Linked DNA regions of Homo sapiens: region 2 is linked to region 1. A link means that fine-mapping ties the variant in region 1 to the expression of a gene that starts in the linked region. Tissue or cell type: skeletal muscle. Region 1 holds a variant in brackets; the other region holds the start of a gene. All regions are shown on one strand. Distances are between the middles of the regions.

Region 1 (2,847 bases):
ACATTTACTTCACTTTGAAGGAACCAAGAAGAATCTTCCAGGCCTTCACTGAGTGCTTTGAATCCAATTTAAGTAAAGAAGTGCGCCAAATATTACCAGAGTTGATCACTTGTGTGCTAGTTTGCTTTCTAATAATTTCACGAATAAAAAAAAAATTAGGTCCCTCAATATAAGCAAAACCTGGGGTGATGGTGAGGCATATATAGTAGACAACAAACAACCAAAAAATCATCCTTTGGATTTTTGTTGATCAGATACTCAGGTGCCTTCACACACCCTCCCATCCCATTTGCACTTTTGAAGATCCCCGGGTCTTATTTTCTGAATGAGTGGATTCCTTCTGAAACCAGCATGCCTCAACTATTACTGTCATTCAGAAGCATGCAAAATAAATGATTCTGAATAATAATAACTTATCATGTACGTCCACACCCCAGTCCAACAAAGACCTCACACCAACGTGTCTGACAACATCAAATACACAAAAAAACCAAACTGAAAACTCCACTAGACATAAATACGTAGGTGCACACATACATAAACATAAAAGCCCGCAGTAGCCAGCATTCATCAGATTCAGCATGTCGTGGTCGCTGTAGGGAGCGGGAGGCCAAGGGGAGGCTGATCCACACATCTACGTGGCCTTAGAGTGCTCCCCAAATAAAATAAGTGTCTCTGCAGACATGCCTGGGAAGCCGCTCCAAGTAGCAGAAAAAAAAAAAATCTAAATCAACCTTTCTGTGTCGCCTGTGTTATCTTTGAGCTTCTCTGGGTCTTAATTTTTATCTGGAAAGTGGGGCCAGCTATACCTGCCTAGCAAGGAACACAGGCTGAGCCCCTGCCATGTGTCTGCTGGCATGCCGAGCCCTGGGGGTACAGAACAAAAGCCATATAGAACATGCTTCAGGGAACATGTGGAAAAGACGTGAGACCTTGTAAACTATGTGAATGTTGTCTATTTGCTATCAGAGCCCACGTCTCAATTTCACAAACAATTTGAAATGCAAAGTAGAGTTTAGCACTGTGCACCAAAAATTCTGGTTTCCCTCCTACAGAATTACACACCTCTGCCCCATTTAAGTCCAGCTTGGCCACATGACTTGCTTGGCCTAATGAAATATGAGTGGAAATGCCTGTCACTTTAAGAACCAGACCGTAGTTCGCCAAGCCCTTTTCCCTCAGCTCCAG[G/T]TAACAATGTTGCAAATGAAAGCGGCTTCCTCCTCCTGGGTTCTGGGTTGAACACCTGAAGAAAACATGGAACACAGCCATGCTGACCTGCAAGGGACACTCAGTACTAGCTAGAAATAGAAAGCCACTGACATCCAAAGGGGATTTGCTACTGCCACATAACCTAGGCCGCCCTGGCAGCTACTAAAATGGAAATGCTTGTTTGAGTGACTGGAGCAAGCATACAGATCTCAGAGGGTGTGCTTCGTGCAAACAGGCAAGCTTTTAGAAAAGAAGAGACATTTTTTACAAGTCCCTTAAAGTCACACTGATGCATTTGTAGTCAGGCTATAATGATCTTTGACATCTTGCATGGACTTGCCTCCCAGAGCCAACCCAGATTCAGCAGCTTTCGAAATTCTAAAGCACAGGTTACAGGTTTCTGCGCATTTTACAAAATTCAAAAGTATCAACACAGGAAAAAAAATTTCCAAAGCTGGACTTCTACATAAACAAAGACAACCCGAAGAGAATGTGACAGATACTCTCGCTTCGTGCCTCTAAACCAGGACATGCAAGCCTGGACTTGGAGTTAAAAACAAAGGCAGCCCCCCTGCCTGGACCATCACTTTTACTTAAGGAGTTTGGTCTGGAGGGGCTTGCTTCTGTCCGTCTTCTTTTTTTAGGGGGCATTTTTAATTCTTGTTTAAGAGATCCTTTTCTGTATCAAAGTCAGGAATATATCCACCTGCATTTTCCACTAAAACTTTTAAAGTTTTGCTTTTTACATTTTAGTTCTTAATCCATCTGGGCTGTGTGTGTGTGTGTGTGTGTGTGTGTGTGTGTGTGTGGTGAGAATAGAGATGCAATTTCACTTTTAATCTATGTGGATAACCAATTACACCAGCACGTTTACTCAATAAACCCTGCCATCTCTCTCATACATGCAGATTATTTTTATAGTAATCTGAAAGTGTAGCTGTTATTAGAGAATGCAACATTTGCATGAGTTTCCGTAGATAAAATATGAGTTCAGCAATTGTCAAAACTCTTTTGGTTGCAAGAGAAAAAACCTAACTCAAACTGGCTTAAACAGTGTGTGTGAGTGTGTGTGTGTGTGATTCTATGTGTGTGTGAGTGTGTGTGTGTGATTCTATGTGTGTGTGTGAGTGTGTGGCTTCCCTGAGGGAGGCACGGTGGCTCCTGTACTCCAGACTTTGTGTCCTAACCCTCTGAGCTACCCTGCCAAGCAGGGAAATTTTTATTTATTTATTTATTTATTTACTTTTTAATTTTTTTTTTTTTTTTTTGGTGACAGAGTCTTGCTCTGTCACCCAGGCTGGAGTGCAGTGGCGCAATCTCGGCTCACTGCAAGCTCTGCCTCCCGGGTTCACACCATTCTCCTGCCTCAGCCTCCCCAGTAGCTGGGACTACAGGCACCTGCCACCACGCCCGGCTAACTTTTGTATTTTTAGTAGAGATGGGGTTTTACCGTGGTCTCGATCTCCTGACCTCATGATCCTCCCACCTCAGCCTCCCAAAGTGCTGGGATTACAGGCGTGAGCCACTGCGACCGGCCCAAACAGGGAAATGTTTTTCCCAATGGTCCATGACCACTGGGTCACTGTGGCTTATATGGGTCCCAGGTGCACCCCTGGCCCCAGCACTGTCCAGGGGTTA
Region 2 (2,500 bases), 36 kb after region 1:
AAGCGTTGAAAGGCGGACGGAGGCTGGAGGAGGCGGCCAGGAGCGAGGCACCCAGACGGCCGCCGGGCCCAGGCTTGGCACCCCCTAGGAGTTCGTCCCCTGAAGGCGGCTTCTGGCCCTGCTTTCCCGCCAGGATGCTGTCTATGCTGAAGCTCTTGGACTTGTCGGAGCTCTTCGGAGAGCTGCGGGAGGCGGGGCGCAGAGGGGACCCCGGGCCGTCCCCTGTGCGCGCTGCCTGGCCGACCGCCACGGCCGCTGCGCCCTGGGCAGCGTCACCAGCGTCCTCGTTCGGGGACGCGGTCCCCGGCCAGTGGAGGGGCGCCGGCGGAGAGGGGCCGTCCAGGAGGGGCGAGGGGCCCGCGGGCGCTGCCTGCAGGCGGGAGATTGCGGGGCCCGAGCCCCCTGCCCCGCTCCCCGCCTCCGGCTGCGCCTCCGCGCTGCGCTGGTGCGTCTCGGCGCGGGGCCTCTTGGCCTCCGGGGCCCCGGGGCCCGGCTTGGGCTTCCTCTTCCGGCGCCGGTAGTTGCCGTTCTCAAACATGTCCAGGCAGCGGGGGTCCAGCGTCCAGTAGCTGCCCTTGCCCGGCCGCCCTTTCTCGCGGGGCACCTTGACGAAGCAGTCGTTGAGCGAGAGGTTGTGGCGGATGCTGTTCTGCCAGCCCTGCCGGTTGTCGTGGTAGAAGGGGAAGCGGTCCATGATGAACTGGTAGATGCCGTTGAGCGTGACCCTCTGCTCGGGCGCGTCCTGGATCGCCATGGCGATGAGCGCGATGTAGCTGTAGGGAGGCTTCTGCGGGGTCTCGGCCCGGCCCGAGGCAGCTAGAGCAGCCGCGGGGGCGAAGGCCAGAGGGAGGCCGGGTCTCTCGGGACCGTACAGATACAGCATGGGCGAGGCGGCCAGGGCAGGCAGCCGGGGATCGAAGAGGTGACTCATGGCAAGCGAGAGCCTGCGCTGCGCTCCCCGCAACGCAGGAGACCCGGGCGGCCTAGGCACTGCGCCCCGCGCCGCAAGGGCCCTCCCGGGGAGCCAGCCGTGCCTCTGCCTCTGGCTCTGCCGCTCTCCCCGGCCGCTCCGTGCTCTGTCCCTTCTTCATGGCTTTAAAAATGTTAAATAATTGTTGTAAGTTTGCTGTTATATGTTGACTTAGCCCTGGAAAATAAATTGTCTATGATAAACAGTCCTTGTGTTCTCAGCCCACCCACATTAATTAAAATTTCATTGCTGAAAAACTCCAAGCTTTTCCCTCCACGTGTCTTTTTGATACCAGCCAATCGGTTTTGGGGCTATTCCTTCATTTGTTTATAGAATTAGTCTGTTGATAAGTCCGCCCACCCAAGTTGAATCAAGCTGTGTTTATTTGGAAAAATTTCCGGGCACCCAATATATAAACGCACTGATCTGATGTTTGAAATATCACGTCCACCCCTTGACGCTGTAAGCACACACAGTCAGTGAGGCAGGATGTAGACTGCGGTGGCTCAGAGCAGGGTCTGCTGAGCCAGGAAGGAGAGGTGGAGATGGGGGTGGGTGTGCAGGGATGAGTTTTACGCTGGCCTGGGGGAGCCCCATAACGCCAGGGCCTCCCACAAAAGGTCTTTTCTTCTCCCAGGCTTAACCGGAGATATCGAGATGCCACAGTCTAGTAAAACACTTTCTGAGGTCCTAGGAACCTTTTAGATTGGGGCAGGGAGAGTATCTAAGAAGCCTGAGTGTCTGCTGAGAAGGGGATGCGGCCCTCCCTGGAAAAACAGGTGGCAGACCCAGTAGGAGGTGGCACTCTCTAGGGACCTGCTCTCCCACACCCTCCCTTCCAGGGCTCTCCGGAAATCGGAGGGAAAGTGGACTCTGGGAGCCCAGTCTCTCTGGAAGGGAAGGCCTAAGGCACTGGGGGCCTGGGGAAGAGCTCATGGTCCACAGCTCCATTGAGGAAGGTTTCAAAATAAACCCATTTAGAGAACCGGGGGCAAAAGTAAGGTCCTCCTGATGGGGCCAAGGTTGCAAGAGAGGAACACCATAAAAGGAGGCCGTGGCAGCTGGCGCGGGAGGCCTGGTATTTGTGAATGTGGGTCTCCAGCTTTATATTCTGGGCTTTCCTGTTTATAACAAGGAGGGGGTTATAACAACTTTACAAGTGCATGCAGCTGGCCCGTGATTACATTAGGCATTTGGGAAGCCTGCTTGCTCTCCCTGTATCCACCCACCCTGGGGTGTACGCGGCCCTCCACCCCCATCTCATTTTACATTTTCCCACATCACTGTTTGAATAAAAAATCCTGAATCATGCTGATTTCGAAGGGGGCCTCTCCTCCCCACTCCACCGGTTAGGGTAAGGGTAGAGGCACCTAGTGTGACTACTTCCTGTTTATGACCACCCCCTGAATATTAAAACACACACACACTGTCACACACACACCCACACACACACACACACATTCGGATAACTGGCGTCTCATTGAGCAAATCGTGTGAGCATGTCAAAGAGATGAGGGAAGGGGGAGGATG

The links. PIP is the estimated chance that this variant, and not a neighbour inherited with it, causes the effect.
Region 2: FOXL1 starts here. The variant in region 1 is fine-mapped to the expression of FOXL1 in skeletal muscle (GTEx, PIP 0.98).

The regions. Positions count from the first base shown.
Region 1 is chr16:86,613,340-86,616,186 of GRCh38, reverse strand. No RefSeq gene overlaps it. Among named protein-coding and RNA genes, the nearest start is that of FOXL1, 36 kb to the right of the region's middle. The variant G/T (reference allele first, on the strand shown) is at 1,189.
Region 2 is chr16:86,577,155-86,579,654 of GRCh38, reverse strand. FOXL1 (forkhead box L1) reads right to left here and starts at 1,106. Exons shown (of 1, transcript NM_005250.3): 1 at 1-1,106. The coding sequence starts at 931. RefSeq lists an enhancer at 1-246.